4 separate regions of the Homo sapiens genome follow, and regions 2, 3 and 4 are each reported to be linked to region 1. Evidence: microRNA targets listed by miRTarBase, many of them from high-throughput screens and not tested one by one. Region 1 holds a microRNA gene; each other region holds the end of a gene's coding sequence.

Region 1 (4,126 bases):
CTCTAGACATCGCCACAGTGAAATAGGGGAGAAAAGAGAAGGCAGTCACAAGAAACTACCATCATAGAAAGGGGATGGAGGAAATGCCATCTGCAACAGAGACAGAGACACAAAACTGCCACTGGAGAAGGATGGGAATACCAGGAGACTTATCTCTGTTCCCACCCCCAGAGTGGGTAGGGGGGAGGATTCCTATTATTTCTGAGCCAAATAAGGGCTCGGAAACATGGCATGACTTGGCATCACTGAGGATGGTGCCCCAGGGGCCCTAGGATCATGCTTGCCCTTCCTCTCCTTGCCCTGCCACTCACCCCAACACGCTCAGGGTACACGCCAGCCCTCAGGAAGGAGGCCTTCCAGCTGTCCACCTCCTCCTGTGTCTCACAGGCTAGCTCCAGCTGCCGATAATCCTTGTAGACATTCCTGCAAGATAGGGCAGGCAGTGAGGGCAGATGGGCAAAGTCTGACCCTCCCTGGGGGTTAAGGGCATGCCCAGACTTTGGGGTCAACATGCCTGAGGCCAGCTCATTTCCCAGCTGTGTGACCCTGTGCAAGTCCCTTCCTCTCAGCCTCAGTTTCCTCACTGGGAAGATGGGTTAATAATAATTCCTGCCTCCTTGGGTCACTGAGGATTCAGTGAAGTGAGTGGTAAAATGCTTAGAAGGGGACTGGACCTTTGACAAGAGGACAACCATAGTCAGTGAAGTCTCTAGCTTGGGGCCCAGATCCCACCAGCTTTCTCCGTGGCTCTCTAAGGACCCCTCTGATGGCCGCTGGACTGAACTCTCATCTCCGAGTAGCAGAGGGCCCACTAGAGTCAGCCTTGGGTCAGGAAGGAAGAGGACTAGTACTGCCACCACCCTATAGGAAAGAGAGCAGGAGAAGAGGACCAGGCCTGACTAGGGCCCTTTGGCTCCAGTGCCTGGCAGAGTGTCTCATGAAGAGCATGCACTATACCAGTGACTATGGAAGGGAGGAAGGGACGGAGGGAGGGAGGGAAGGGGAGAATGGAAGGAAGGGAGGAAGGGAGGGAGGGAGGAAAGGAGGGAGGATGGAAGGAAGGAAGGGAGGAAGGAAAAGAGGGAGGGAAGGAGGAGGGAAGGGAAGGGGAGGGGATGGGAGATCTTGACATGATGTCTAGCTCAAAGCAGGAACTCAATAAGCATCTGTCAGTGGATGGCTTGCTGTGGGGCCTAGGGGAGGTTCCTCTCCTCCCTGGATCCCTGTACCCAGCTTCTACTCAGTGAGGGTGGTTTTGGGGCTGCAGCAGCCACAGCCAGGGGCAGGCAGGCACCTCTGCTCCGTGTTAAAGAGGGCAAAGATATGCTTGCTCGACATAAAGCCCTTCTCCACGTCCCGCAGCTTGAGGTTGTCCACAGACAGCATGTATTTCTTCTCTTTCTCCTGTGGGTGCAGGTAGGAGCAATGGGGTGAGGTTGGCACTGTTCTCTGCCACACCTCACTCTCTAAGAGTCCCCCTGACTGGCCCAGGGCTTCTAAGCATCAGCCCCCTCCCACTGCGAAGGTGCAGCTAGATAAAAGCCTGGCCACGGACCGTAGGCCTCCTGGGCACCGCCGACCCCCGCAGAGCCAGTCCTACCAGCTCTGCATATATGCCGGGGGCCAGGGGGCTGGTGAGGGGTGGGGAGGCTGAGAGTGGCTCCCAAAATCCCTCCCCAGGCAAGTCCTGGATACAAGCCAGGCCAGCCTCAGGCAGGGACCGCACACTCAGGCCTCTCTCACCCCCGGCCTGGCCGCCTCTGACTTCATTTCCTGACTGCAGAGACCAGGAAGGGGGGCCACCAGACCCGGCGGCTTCAAAGGGCCGGCTCAGCCCACTCCCCCGAGCTCCCCATGTGTTAGCAATAAGGCAGCCAGCACAAGCCTGGAGATGGTGTGCCTGTGTGTGCAACATGTGTGTAGTTGTGTGTTTGTGCCAACACATGCAAGCCCAAGTACATATCCTATCAGCTATTGTGTGTGTGTGCACATGTGTATCTGGGGAGGTGCCCAGCATGAACCATGTGTCGGTGTCAGCGTGTCTGCATCTCAGTGTGGATGTGTGCACACTTTGTGGATGTGTGTGGCAATTGTGCGAGCCTACATGTTTGCAGAGCCATGCCTGTGGACTTATACTGGGGTACACATCTTACCTGCACACCGTGGTACAATGGGCTGTGTGTTTGATTTATCTAGAGCTGTCTGGGAGGAGTTATGTGTATCTGTGCACAGGCGTGTGGGGTGCTAGGCCCATGTGTGTGCTCGGTGTGGGCACATGTGTATGTAGGCTGCTGTGTCCCAGGGGAGGGGTTCAGGGATCTAGGGAGGAGGTACCCCAGGATGGGGCTCTGGGAGAGGGGAGGGGTTTTTGTCACCCATGCCCTACTTGTTCACGGGGGTCGTCTGTGTGGGCCTCGGGGACTCAAAGAGGTTGGGCATGAGCCTTGCCTAGGATCTCAGGTGGGGGGCTGGGTTTAGGGGGACCTTGCTCCCCCGTCCTGGCGTCATCCCGCCCACCCCTCTCTGCCCCCAACGCCCCCCTGGCCCATGCAGCCACATAAAGCCCTCTTTATGCCAGGCGGGTGGCCGGGAGCCCCAGAGGGCGGCTGGGGGAGGAGAGGAGGAAGTTGCACACACGGCCAGGGAACATCTGGAACCGTTCGAGAGAGGCCCCGCCACCACCCGCCCTGTGCTTCGGGGTTGGACACTAGGTAGGAGCGGCCTCCTCCCCCCACCCCTCCCTTCCTGCCGGCCGGCCCCCTCCTCAGGCCCCTCCTTCTCAGCCCCAGCTCCCGCTCACCCCTGCCACGTCAAAGGAGGCAGAAGGGGAGTTGGGAGCAGAGAGGGGACCACGGGCTGGCTGGTCTGGGGCTAGGGGGACACAGGCTGGGGTTGGGGGGTTCTCGGATCTCCAGGGGATGGGGCTGAAGCGCCCACCGGATGGACAGACACTGCTGCCTGGATGGACCAGAGGACACCTCCACTCCGTCTACCCAGTGTTTAGACTATCTGTTCAGGACTCCCAAATTGTACAGTAGTCTGCACATTGGTTAGGCTGGGCTGGGTTAGACCCTCGGCACCGCCGCCACTGGAGAGCTGGACCGACCCCTGCCTGCCATCCCAGAACCGGAGCCTGGAGCCAGGGGGTTGGGGCACAGGGCGGGCTGGGAGGAGGCACAGATGGATGGGGGTGCCACCCTGTGTGGGACTGGTTGGGGGTAGCGGTGATGGGGGAAGGGTGGCCGAGGAAGACTGAGAGGATGGGGGGGTCAATGGGGACTGGGGATGTGGGCAGCCGCCGGTCTGCCCAAAGAGCCTCCCTCACCCCAAAACCTGAGGGCTGGTGGTTGAGTAGAGAAGTACAGACCACTCTCCCACCAGCCTGGACCACCTCCACATCCCCAGTGGTCCTAGTGCAAGAATCCACTCACATTCAACACACACGCACCTTGACACTCACAGCCCCAGAACTCACACACATGAGCACCCCCACACTTTCAATCTCACACCCATGTCCCACACGGACACACACAAGTGCATGCACACACACCCATACACACCCTCACAACTGGAACACTCCCCCCATCCTCACATCCCAAAGACATACACAGATTCTCAAACACCCCATACTCACACCCTCCCTCCTAGAGCCCCCTCCCCACACACACCTGCTTTTACACCCCAAGCACAGGCAGGTGCCCAGAGTCACTCCCCAGGCACACAGATTTCACCCCCAGATGCAAATGCAGACCACATATTCCAAACACACCTAGATGCTTATACTCCAATCACACTCCTAAAAAACACCCACACACCAGACCCACAAGCCACACACACACACACACACACACACACAAACACACCCCGCCTCCCAGCACCCACAGCCCACAGCTGACTCCCATCTCCCCACATATGATTCTCAGAGCTGTTTTCGCACACGACTTAACTCAGATGTACACAAAAGCTCCAGAAAGGCCTGCAGGCTCAGGCATGAGATCAGGGGACCCCCTCAGTGGCACGTGCCCCTCCCCCACAGTGTCACCCGGTCTCCGGCCCTCAGCCCCAGGTCACATGGTCTCCCTGGCCCTGAGTAAGGAACCTCAACATGGGAGACCCCAAACCCATG
Region 2 (4,000 bases), not on the chromosome of region 1:
AAAAAGCCTTGTGTCAGGCCTGATCTGGGAGATGTAGCTGCCTCTCTGCTTTCTGGGAAGCCAGTGGGATCATATTCTATAGAGATCTGAGGATGGCTGGACACTCGGGAAGGGCCTGGTCACCAGTGAAGTCAAATCCCAAAGGTGACACACTGAGGGGAGGCTCAGCCCCGGGGCCCCCATCCCCTTCACCCCACTGCCTCTGCCCCCAGGGAGGTGAGGGAGGGCTGGGACCCACGGAGGAAACAGCCAAGGCCCTACTTTTTCACGATCCTTTATTAATCAGAACAGGCCTTGCCACAAAAAGCAGGGCCCATTCCCACAAAAATATGATTTTGCAAAGAGGAAATCTTGCTGGCTTAGAGGGTATGTGTGGTGGAAAAATTTTGTATGGTTCTTTTTTTCCTGTTTTTTTTTTTTCTTCAGTTTTTCTTCATTTCTCTTCGCTGCAAAATTTTTTTTTTTGTGATGGTGGGTTTTTGTTTTATTTTTTATAAAACACTTGCACTCAAGAACATACAAACAGTGGCCACCAATCCCCACCCCTGGGGCTCCGGGGAGCCCCCCTGGCTTGTTTGTGGCTGTTTTCCTCTGTCCCTTCCCTGGCATCTGGTGCCAGAGGGCAGGTGCGGGGGTCCTGGGGCGGGTGGAATTTGTACAGCACTTTCATGGGGAGATGGTCACAAGAAAGGAAACCAGGACAAGATAAGGACTAAGTCTAGGGCACCCACAAAGATGGCAGACGAAGCCCATGAAAGGGCCTGCGACAGAGTGAAGAGACGGATGGGCCTGCGTTGGCCTCAGCTAGCTCTGGAGGCTCTGTGGGGGAGGGGCAGGTGGGCCTTGCAGTCAGGATTCGGTAATTACACTTTGCTCACGGGTAGCACCTTCGGAGTCCTCCTGCCTTGACCCCCAGGTCAGGTGATGGTGGCCTCACAACCTCCCCTATGAGGTAGGTGAAGTATTATTACCATCATTTTACAGATGGGGAAACCGAGGCCCAGGGAGTGCGGGTGACTTGCCCAAAGTCCTGGGATGGTGGCAAGGCTCCGGTGCCCTCCCCCCACCCTCAAGTTCCCCCATTCTCTGCTCTCCTATTGCCCTAGACCGCCCCCGCCCCATCCCATACCACCCTTACCTCCCGTGCTAGCCTACCCGGCCCTCGGCCCACCGCTTGCCGCCCCAACATAGCATCCCAGAGCTCCACCTGCACGTGGTGGTGGTGGGGCGCTGGGGAAGCCCAAGCCTGGTCGCTAATGTGCCTGGGTGGGGTCTGGTTGGGAAGAGACCCCTGCCAGGAGATGCTCTCTGCATAGGATTGGCTAAGAGCTCTGTGGGCGGGGCTCGGGAAAAATGGGGAGCCGTTGCCCCGCCCACTCGATACAAGTTGGTTGGATCCCCAGGGCGAAGGCGCCTGGAAGGTGGGGGCTGGCTCACTGGGCGGTCTTCCGCGGGGCAGGCGGGTGGTGGGGGGACAGGAAACCGAGGCGGATCCAAGAGAGGAGTGGAGAAGGGCAGATCCCCTCCTCCGCTCAAGACTTCCCACCACACTCTCTCCCACGTCCACGAGGCCTCGGGGTCGCTGCCCTCCCGTCCCGGCTGGGGGCCGCTCCCCAGCCCGCCAAAGAGGAGGATGCAGTTGGGGCCGACCCCATTTTAAGCAAAGCTACAATATAGAAACATTTGGATTTACAAGGAACGTGGGTGACTATTTGCTTTACATTAGCATTCTTCACTCTACAAAACGATTCACCTACTATGTATGATGTTCCTCCAGATCCCAGGGAGAGGAAATGGTGGGGGTGTGCGATTTAATTTCAGAAAATTTCGGTATGGGCAAAAGGCGACCCGTCTACTGCAGCAAGCAGAATGCTCAGCTCAAGGGGAAGCCGTTCGAAGGAAAATGGTTCCCAAATGCCAATGGTCTCCCCACGCCCTGGATGTGGGGACCCTATCCAGAGTCCCCTTCTTCTCTTTGGGGTGTCACAGGCCCATCCAGAGTGGAACTGGGGGCTAAGACCACGGCCACAGACTGTGGGGGCCTGGCGCCACCTGGCGGTAGTTCTGGGAATGTCAGGCCCAGGCTCGTGGACCCCCAGGATTGGAGGCTTTGTCACCAGCTGGGTCTTGTATCAATACCAGGACCAGCGTGGGGATGAGAGGGCTTAAGCAGGGATCAGCCTGAAATCTGCCGTCTCCAAGGGGAAGCCAGTTTTAGTCTCATCAGTGGCCGAGGCAGAGAAACCACAGCTTCTTTGTGTGTGGCAACCTCAGAACTCACAGAATCCTGGTCTTTTCCCTGCCTCCTTTCCCTGCACTGTGAGTGAGTCGGGCAGAAGGAGCTGCTCCCGGGGACCAGGGAGTGGGGAAGGGTGAGAAGACAGTCCTGGAGAAGGTCAGGTGATGGACGATCAGAGACCACGCACGATGAGACGGAATGAATGGAAGGTCTACAAGCATTGGGGGATGGAGGGGTGGAGGAAAGAAGGGTGGAGGTCTGCACAGGCAGGGAGAGATGAGGAAGGGCAGGCAAGCTGGAAAGCATGGAGAATAGGGCAGATGTGGCTGCGTATGAGGTGTGGGAAGCTGGCGGGGGGTCTTTTGATGAAGGAGTTAGGGCAAAGCTAGTCGGGGCTCGGGACCCCCTGAGAAGGAAGGGAGATGAGTCCTGGTGGAATGCTATGCACACAGTAGGTGCCTAAAAGGTGTGAGTCAGTGTTCAAGAGATGAAATTGCTGAGGAGGGAACTACTTCAGATTCTGAGCAGAGGGGGGCACCAAGGGGAGAAGGGGAGGAGACGGGGGGATGGCAGGAGGCAGCCCAGTTCTCAGCCCAGCTCCAGCAACTGCAGCTCTTCTGTTTCTGACCTCTGCCTCACCCGACCCCACTCAGCCCTATGGGCCTCTCCTCTCACACCCCCGGCCTCCAACCCTGCCTGGCCTTCACAAAACCTGCCTTCTCTGTATAGTCCTCCGCATTTCCAGGCCTCTGTCCCCACGCACACACACAATGGACACAACACGAGTACAAAGGGCCACAGCTCCAGGACCCAGGAGCGGGCTATATACTATCCTCGACATTCAGGGCCCAGCCGGCACCTGAAACTGCCCTGGGGATGGGCCTCTCCTGGCCAGGCCGGGGCCAAACGCCTCAGCCTCCCCTCCCCGGGTCCACATCGGGGGCTGGAGAGGGAGTGGCCTCTCTCCACTCCAGGTGCTGCCTTAAAGAAAATGGGGGACCATGCCCACCTGGCGGGCCTCTGGAGGGGTCTGCCTGTCTGGCCGTCTGGCTCTCGAGCTCCCCCAACTTCTTTAGTATTAGTAAGTCAGGAAGAAAAGGGGCAAAGCAGGAAAATGCCTCCCAGAGCCCCTTCCCCGGAGCTGGACTGTGGGGGATGGGGCTGGTACTTCCTAGAAACGGGGCCCAGTTGAGTCCTGGGACCCCTCCCTGGCTGAGCCCTCAGGGTCCTCCCCTCCCTATGGCAGGGGGCTCAGGCCGGGCGTTGTGCATAAAGTGGTGAGGGCATGATGGGGACCTGGGCCCTCGGCCCCCTGGGCCTCCCTTGGCCCCACTCAGGCCTTCAGCTGGTGCCACTGGGCCACGGGCTGCCGGGGACGGGCAATCATGTCCTTCCAGTGCTTCACCTCCCCTGGCCCGCTCTTCCAGGACAGGTAGATCTGGGGAGAAAGGGGAGACGATGGCATCGGCACAGGCTCCAGGGCACTGGCCCTTTCCCCCACAGGGGTGACACCCCAACTCCACCATGATACCCTAGCCTGTGGCCCCCCAGCCTCCACATGCTGTGACAACCTACCCCACAGAGGCGCTCTCCTCCCTCCCCCAGTCAGCCTGATCTATTTTCCTGGTTGTCTACCCCCACACCCCCAAGCCTGGGCACGCCAGGCCTCTCGGAATTAGACTGCCAACCTATTTTGCAGTGGGGTCTGGAAGGTGGGGTTGGAGGCAGCTTGTCTCCATGGCCTTCCCTGCCCTATCTGTT
Region 3 (4,000 bases), not on the chromosome of region 1:
GTGGCACGGAGCAGGCCTTGTTCCGTGCAGGTGCTCATGCACCTCCCAGCTTATGGGGGTGACTCCAGTCTGAGCATCTCGGCAGAGGTGTGCAGAGCCGCTGCCTTTTGGGAAAGGCCAGCTGGACCCCTAGTGTCCCGCCACAGATGGGGGCCCTGGCCAGGAGGGAGCCTCTGTGCAGCCTGTGCCCTGCAGGAGCACTGACCTTCTCTCCCTCCCCTCCCTGCACAGGGTGGATCTTTGGCGAGCGTCTGCACGACCAGGAGAGAGGCTGGTTCCCCAGCTCCATGACTGAGGAGATCTTGAATCCCAAGATCCGGTCCCAGAACCTCAAGGAATGTTTCCGTGTCCACAAGATGGATGACCCTCAGCGCAGCCAGAACAAGGACCGCAGGAAGCTGGGCAGCCGGAATCGGCAATGACCCCCACCCAGGGGGCCAGCGGGAGCAGGGCCTGCATGAGACCCCGACAGAAGGTGGGGGGGGGGGGGCTCTGGGAAGCACAGGCCAGCACCTCCCCAGGTGGCAGGATCTGGCTTGGGGTGCCCGGCCCTCATCCCTGCCCACGCAGTGAGTGCTCATGTGTCTTGGCCCCTTGCTCGCAAACTGGATAAAGGGTGCCCAAGCCTCTCCTGATGCATTTGTAAACAAGAAGGTTTCAGCAGTATTACACCACCTCCCTCATGCCTCCGAGGGGGTGGAAGGGGGTGGGCACACTCCAGGGCCCCCCATGCCCCTGGCCCCCAGGGACTGGAAGAGGCTCCCAACCCAGAGTGTCCCTGTGGGAGGCAGGCAGAAGGTGACAATTGACACGATTTCCTGCACGCGTCCTCCTCTACCTTGGAAGCAGTTAGAATCTACCAGGCACAGATGAGGCCGCCCTTGCCTGACGGAGCTTGATGAGCAGCCCTTGGTCTCCGGTTCCAGGACTGAGAGCCCAGCTGCCTCTGCCCACCCTTCCCCAGGCCTCTGCCAGCCTCTGGCTGCACGGTCAGGCCCTGCCCCATGGCAGGCCTGCCAGAGCTTGGCTGGGGACCCCTCCCGCCTCTGGCTCCCTGATGGGCTGGATGTAACTTGTGTCTTCTAGCCCCTTAAGGAGCCCAGGTGTTTTAAGGAATGAATTGGTCACTGCATCTTGTATCGATTATGGTTCTGAGAAAAGCAAATATCACTTTTGGCTGCATTAAAAGAAGCATCATATATAAAATAAAGAAGATGAAGGTCTACTCTTTATTGCCCTTGTACACAAAGGAAGGGGGTGTTTGGTTCCAGGTAGTGAGAGAGGAGCACCCCTTCAAGGCTGGTCGAGGAGGCATGTCCCAAAGGAAGAGTTCAAGGCGGTTTCCAGAGAGGAAGGAACAGCCAGGGCCTTGCCTCAACATGGGAACGGATTTGGGCCTCCACTTGTAGGACTCCAGAAACAGAAAGGGCTGTTTGACGGAGCTGGGGACGCCCCTCTGCTGCAGTGGAAATGAGGACACAGCTTTGGAAGACCGTAGAGGCCCCGAAGTGTCCATGGTGGGGGGGGCCCTACAGGGGATCTCACCACAGGCATGGGGCTGGGACTTCCTGCACTGCCCAGAAACAGGCCCTGGGCCCTTCACACCTTCAGTTACCCAGAGCGCACCCCCTCCCCTCGCCCCAGCTCCACCTCAGTGTGCTGAGGGGTCCTGTGTGCCCAGGACCACGATCTCTGCCAGGACACAGTTTCCCTGCTCGCCAGAACAGGCCTCTGGTTTAGATCCAGTGGGACTTTGTAGCGTCTTCCCACAGGCCACAGCAGGGTGCTCGGACCTCAGACCCTCTGAGAATCACAGAGATGCACAGGCATGTGACACTGGTTCCACCGGAGAGGGAGGCCCCCTGGTCCCAGTGAGGGGCTGTGATGCACCCGTTGGTGGGGGAGTGCTTGCAGAGTGGGGAAAGGGAAAGAGGGGGCCATCTCTCGTCCCTGGAGGGGAGGGTTGGGAAGGAGTTGGGTGGCCATTGGTCCCCGTGCCTTTTGAGGATGGGAAACAGCATGTTGGGTTGGATCGTCCGCTCTGATGAAGGCTTTGGTTACTCAAGGTTATGTGAGATGAAGTCAGTTAACCAATTAGGAAAATAGGTCAGTTTCATAGCACTCCTTTATAAGCAGAATCATTGAACTCACAGTGTATTTTGGGGAGACTGGTTGAGTGGGAAGCTGTTAACAGACTTGGATGAGGCCTTGACCCTATCCCCCAGTGTGTGAGAGGTGCGCGGGCACCACCTGGGCTCCAGTGTCCAGGAGGAGAAAGTCACGGCAGGAAACAGTGCCATGGGGAGCTCAGGGACACCAAAGGGGCCAAAACAGCTGCTAGAGAAAATGAATTTTTAAAAAAGAGAAGCAGCTTGCCCTCCAGCAACATTCCCACTCAGGAATCTTCAGATACATTAAGCTGTCCCCAAGGGGTCTGCTGGCCTCCAAACTGTCCAACCCTTCCCTCCAAAGGCCCTGGGGACTGGGGTAGGGACCAAGTTCCCACTTCCTGCTGTGCTGAGCAGGTTAAATGATCAAAGGATCAAAGTTTACATCTCTAAATGCTTCCGAGGTGGGGACCCTGGACCAGGCTCCTCACCCTCACTCCGCCCCGACTCTCTGAGGGTGAAGTGAGGTGAGTAGAGCTGGGAAAGCCGTTTTCTCTCCCTGAACAAACCAACCGTGGGCGTGGGGGCTGCCGGCCCCCAGCCAGGCCTGGGGGTGAGAGTAGGAAGCAGGGGCGGGCCGTGTCCGGCGTCGACTCTCGACTCATCCTGCTCCTGAGGCTCCCTGGGCAGAGGGGGGCTTGGGGCTGCTGGTCTGAGCCCGCGGATGGGGCCCTGGCTGCAGGACTCAGAGTCAAGACGTCCCCCAAAACCACGCGGCCTCTGGCTGGGAGAGCCGACGGCCCCTGCCCTCCCCAACCCCGGCCTCAAGGAGCGGCGGGCCCCGGGGTCTCTGTCGGCCTCTCCTGCCCTAGCGCTTACCTCCTCACGGAACGCTCTGAACCCCAGCGGAGCGGGATGGGAGGCAGGCCCCGGGGAGCGCGGCGAGGGCCTCGGCCCGCGCCCAGGCAGAGGAGGCGGCGCCGGGAGAAGGGGCCGCCCGTGGCGTGGCCCTGACCGTGACGGTGCCCCCGGACGGGCTAAGACCGCTGGCCGCACACCCGCTCCGATGCCCTGGCGGCCCCGGCGCACGCGCACCGGGCACGCACATGCGGCGCGCTCCTGAGGCACTCCAGCCGTGGTGCACGGGGACGCCGAGCCGCGCGGCCCTGCGCGCGCTCAGGTGCACGCCACACGCAGGCGGGCTCGGACATGCTGTGCGCTCACGCACGCCCCGGCGCCCCTGCGGGGAATTCGGGCGCGCCTCCGGACCCGCGCGCGTGCACGGCACCCACCCTCGGCCCCGCGCGCACCCCCGCCCTGAGCGCTCGCCTGCGCGCGCTCACGCTCTGGCACACCTGCATGCGCGGACACGCACGCGCGGACATACAGGCGCGTGAGGAGTGCAGCCGAGTCGCGCCGCGGCCGGGCGCGGCCCCTTTATTCGCTTCAGGAGGCAGAAAACTTTCTCAGCGCGACGACCACGAGCGCCAGCACCACGCAGGTGGCCAGCAGGGCGGCGATCACGATGGCCGCGATAGCGCCGGGCCCCAGCGACCCTGCGGAGGACGGAGGACCATGTCACCTGCTAGCCCCCGCCTGGCCGGCCCTTCTCCCCGCGCCCCCCGCCCCCCGCCCCTCCTAATTTCTCCCTCTCCCCTCCCTCCCCCGCCCCGCCCGTACCGCCGCCCTGGTCCAGCCGCTCCTGCGCGGTGCTGTCCTCGGGTCCTGGCGCGACGGTGGGGGCTGGGGGACCGGTGTCCACGGGCTCCCGGCCGGGGCTGGTGCTCTCCACGGGGCCTTCTCCCGACGGCAGCTCGGCCGGCTCGTTCCACAGCGTGGGCACGGGCTCCTGTGGAACATCGTCTGCAAAGCCAAGGAGAGGTGCTGGGGCC
Region 4 (4,000 bases), not on the chromosome of region 1:
CTCCCACCACCTGAATTCTCCAAGGACTCGGGTTTCCTGGAAGAGCTCCCAGAAGATAACCTCTCCTCCTGGGCCACCTGGGGCACCTTACCACCGGAGCCGAATCTGGTCCCTGGGGGACCCCCAGTTTCTCTTCAGACACTGACCTTCTGCTGGGAAAGCAGCCCTGAGGAGGAAGAGGAGGCGAGGGAATCAGAAATTGAGGACAGCGATGCGGGCAGCTGGGGGGCTGAGAGCACCCAGAGGACCGAGGACAGGGGCCGGACATTGGGGCATTACATGGCCAGGTGAGCTGTCCCCCGACATCCCACCGAATCTGATGCTGCTGCTGCCTTTGCAAGGACTACTGGGCTTCCCAAGAAACTCAAGAGCCTCCGTACCTCCCCTGGGCGGCGGAGGGGCATTGCACTTCCGGGAAGTCCACCTAGCGGCTGTTTGCCTGTCGGGCTGAGCAACAAGATGCCCCTCCCTCCTGTGACCCGCCCTCTTTAGGCTGAGCTATAAGAGGGGTGGACACAGGGTGGGCTGAGGTCAGAGGTTGGTGGGGTGTCATCACCCCCATTGTCCCTAGGGTGACAGGCCAGGGGGAAAAATTATCCCCGGACAACATGAAACAGGTGAGGTCAGGTCACTGCGGACATCAAGGGCGGACACCACCAAGGGGCCCTCTGGAACTTGAGACCACTGGAGGCACACCTGCTATACCTCATGCCTTTCCCAGCAGCCACTGAACTCCCCCATCCCAGGGCTCAGCCTCCTGATTCATGGGTCCCCTAGTTAGGCCCAGATAAAAATCCAGTTGGCTGAGGGTTTTGGATGGGAAGGGAAGGGTGGCTGTCCTCAAATCCTGGTCTTTGGAGTCATGGCACTGTACGGTTTTAGTGTCAGACAGACCGGGGTTCAAATCCCAGCTCTGCTGTTCACTGGTTGTATGATCTTGGGGAAGACATCTTCCTTCTCTGCCTCGGCTTCCTCATCTGCAGCTACGCCTGGGTGTGGTGAGGGTTCTAGGGGATCTCAGATGTGTGTAGCACGGAGCCTGCTGTGTCCTGGGTGCTCTCTACGTGGTGGCCGGTAGAATTCTCCATCTATCCAGGCTCCAGGAGACCCCTGGGCATCTCCCACCTGTGGCCCCTAAACCCAGAGTGACTGAGAGCACTTAACATTCAGCTTGTCTCATCCCCAGTCTACCTCCTTCCTTCTACCCTCACTGCCTCCCAGTCAGGAGAGTGAGCTCTCAGAAGCCAGAGCCCCACCCAAGGGGACCCTGGTCTCTCCGCCTTCACCTAGCAATGGGAACCCTGCTTCCCAGGGGAGGAACCAACTGCTCCACCTTCTAGGGACCCAGTTTGTTGGAGTAGGACAGTAACATGGCAGGAATCGGACTTCTGGGCCTGTAATCCCAGTTTGGATGGCACGTTAGACTCTTGGTTGACCGTTGTGGTCCTTAGAAGTCCCATTCTCCCTTCCAGTTATGAGAAACCAATGCCTTCTAGATTCAGGTGACTATCCTTACCTGGGGGTGCTGATGCATCCTCAGTTAACCTACACCCACCTGAATATAGATGAGCGTAGCTGAGTTTTCACCCGTAGGACCGAAGTGTTTTGTGGTGGAGTATCTGAACAACCTTGGCTCTGTGGCCATTCAACCTGCCAGGACTAACATTTCTGGATTTGTGAAGAAGGGATCTTCAAAGCCATTGAACCCACAGAGCTGTGTTGCTTTAAAGCCACCACAAGGGTACAGCATTAAATGGCAGAACTGGAAAAGCTTCTTAGGGCATCTCATCCAGGGATTCTCAAACCATGTCCCCCAGAGGCCTTGGGCTGCAGTTGCAGGGGGCGCCATGGGGCTATAGGAGCCTCCCACTTTCACCAGAGCAGCCTCACTGTGCCCTGATTCACACACTGTGGCTTTCCACGTGAGGTTTTGTTTAGAGGGATCCACTACTCAAGAAAAAGTTAGCAAACCACTCCTTTTGTTGCAAAGGAGCTGAGGTCAAGGGTGGCAAAGGCACTTGTCCAAGGTCGCCCAGCAGTGCTGCTCTGATGACTTGTGCACATCCCCAAGGGTAAGAGCTTCGATCTCTGCACAGCCGGGCCAACCTCTGACCCCTTGTCCATGTCAGTAAAATATGAAGGTCACAGCCAGGATTTCTAAGGGTCAGGAGGCCTTCACCGCTGCTGGGGCACACACACACACATGCATACACACATACGACACACACCTGTGTCTCCCCAGGGGTTTTCCCTGCAGTGAGGCTTGTCCAGATGATTGAGCCCAGGAGAGGAAGAACAAACAAACTACGGAGCTGGGGAGGGCTGTGGCTTGGGGCCAGCTCCCAGGGAAATTCCCAGACCTGTACCGATGTTCTCTCTGGCACCAGCCGAGCTGCTTCGTGGAGGTAACTTCAAAAAAGTAAAAGCTATCATCAGCATCATCTTAGACTTGTATGAAATAACCACTCCGTTTCTATTCTTAAACCTTACCATTTTTGTTTTGTTTTGTTTTTTTGAGTCGGAGTTTTGTTCTTTTTGCCTAGGCTGGAGTGCAGTGGTACAATCTCGGCTCACTGCAACCTCCACCTCCCGGGTTCAAGTGATTCTCCTGCCTCAGCCTCCCAAGTAGCTGGGATTACAGGCACCCGCCACCACACCTGGCTAATTTTTTTGTATTTTTAGTAGAGACGGGGTTTCACCATGTTGGCCAGGCTGGTCTCGAACTCCTGACCTCAGGTGATCCGCCCGCCTCGGCCTCCCAAAGTGCTGGGATTACAGGCGTGAGCCACCGCGCCCAGCCAAACCTTACTATTTTTTTAAAGAATTTTTTCCAGAGTTTAATTTCTGACATAGCTTAAGTTTTCCAGTAACTCTAAACTCCATCTCCTTTATCGTCATTAAGTCATTCACAAAAAGCCAGGAGAAGCATTTGGAAAGGGCATGATAATCAGTATAATAATTTGCCTTGTGTGGTCAGCACTTAACTGTTTACAAAGCCCTTTCACGTGCACAGCAGGTGGGAACTGCGCGGTGTGGGCTGGGCCTGCGCTGGAAGCATATCCCGTGAAAAGTGTTAGTGCCTTAGGTGAAAGCAACATGTATCCCTTTAGACTACTAACGGTATATGTTGTTCTTATGTATTTGTATTTATTTCTATTTTTTCTATGTTTATGTCATATTTAAACGATATCCTACTGCTTGTTGGTATTACCCTAAACTGTTTAAATAAAGAGCTCTATTTTTAAAGAAAAAAGGTACAATTGAATGGAAAAGCGTATGCTCTTATCTTTTTTTTTTTGAGACAGGATCTCACTCTGTCATGCACGCATGCCCCACCAGGCCTGGTTAATTTTTTTGTTTTTGTAGAGATGGAATCTCCTATGTTGCCCAGGCTGGTCTCAAACTCCTGGGCTCAAGCAATCCTTCCCGCCTCGGCCTCCCAAAGTGTTGGTTGGGATTATAGGTGTGAGTGACCGTTTCTGGCCTATGCTCTTATTTTTCAAAGGCTCCTCACCTCTCCTCTGGGAAACCTAGCTGTTAAGGCTACAAGGGTCAGCCAGGCAGGGTGGCTGATACCTGTAATCCCAGCACTTTGGGAGGCCGAGGCGGGCAGATCACGAGGTCAGGAGATCGAGACCGTCCTGGCTAACATGGTGAAACCCTGTCTCTACTAAAAATACAAAAAATTAGCCGAGGGTGGTGGCGGGCGACTGTAGTCCCAGCTACTTGGGAGGCTGAAGCAGGAGAATGGCATGAACCCGGGAGGTGGAGCTTGCAGTGAGCCAAGATCACACCACTGCACTCCACCCTGGGCAACAGAGCCAGACTCAGTCTCAGAAAAAAAAAAAAAAAAGACTACAAGGGTCTTGAGTCGGGTCCCCAGAAGCAAACCCAGAGAAAAGGTAGAAAGGTAGAAAGCAGTGCAGTGATCCAGGTAACGCCAGGAGGGGAGTGTGGAGGCAAGATGGGGCGGAGGGTAGGGGAGGAGGGGAGTGTGGAG

Evidence for each region. Region 1 holds the annotated microRNA hsa-miR-3154 (CAGAAGGGGAGUUGGGAGCAGA, at 2,821-2,842, shown strand). A microRNA usually pairs through its seed, bases 2 to 8, with sites in the 3' UTR of a target mRNA and lowers its output. Matches are read on the target gene's strand: a 7mer-m8 pairs with bases 2 to 8, a 7mer-A1 pairs with bases 2 to 7 and ends in A, and an 8mer does both.
Region 2: the mRNA of SYT7 is a reported target of hsa-miR-3154. Seed matches in the 3' UTR shown: 7mer-m8 at 2,785-2,791, 7mer-m8 at 2,484-2,490 and 7mer-m8 at 1,509-1,515.
Region 3: miRTarBase lists SNORC as a target of hsa-miR-3154. Seed matches in the 3' UTR shown: 7mer-m8 at 3,094-3,100.
Region 4: miRTarBase lists IFNLR1 as a target of hsa-miR-3154. Seed matches in the 3' UTR shown: 7mer-A1 at 1,198-1,204, 7mer-A1 at 1,333-1,339 and 7mer-A1 at 1,489-1,495.

Annotation. Positions count from the first base shown.
Region 1 is chr9:128,243,672-128,247,797 of GRCh38, reverse strand. It overlaps MIR3154 (microRNA 3154), which reads left to right and starts at 2,768; the gene lies at 2,768-2,851. It overlaps DNM1 (dynamin 1), which reads right to left. Exons shown (of 22, transcript NM_004408.4): 16 at 1,295-1,404; 17 at 312-423. It overlaps MIR199B (microRNA 199b), which reads left to right and starts at 2,968; the gene lies at 2,968-3,077.
Region 2 is chr11:61,515,055-61,519,054 of GRCh38, forward strand. It overlaps SYT7 (synaptotagmin 7), which reads right to left. Exons shown (of 13, transcript NM_001365809.2): 13 at 1-3,677. The coding sequence ends at 3,573. Among named protein-coding and RNA genes, the nearest start is that of LRRC10B, 8.3 kb to the left of the region's middle.
Region 3 is chr2:232,875,911-232,879,910 of GRCh38, reverse strand. It overlaps SNORC (secondary ossification center associated regulator of chondrocyte maturation), which reads right to left. Exons shown (of 3, transcript NM_001394206.1): 2 at 3,789-3,971; 3 at 1,211-3,664. The coding sequence ends at 3,555. NGEF (neuronal guanine nucleotide exchange factor) reads left to right here. Exons shown (of 15, transcript NM_019850.3): 15 at 232-1,210. The coding sequence ends at 422. Among named protein-coding and RNA genes, the nearest start is that of SNORC, 7.6 kb to the right of the region's middle. RefSeq lists a silencer at 3,353-3,422.
Region 4 is chr1:24,153,421-24,157,420 of GRCh38, reverse strand. It overlaps IFNLR1 (interferon lambda receptor 1), which reads left to right. Exons shown (of 7, transcript NM_170743.4): 7 at 1-3,253. The coding sequence ends at 291. It overlaps LOC124903879 (a long non-coding RNA gene), which reads right to left. Exons shown (of 3, transcript XR_007065544.1): 2 at 2,229-2,409; 3 at 1-166. Among named protein-coding and RNA genes, the nearest start is that of IL22RA1, 12 kb to the right of the region's middle. RefSeq lists enhancers at 2,731-3,328, 3,329-3,926, 3,927-4,000.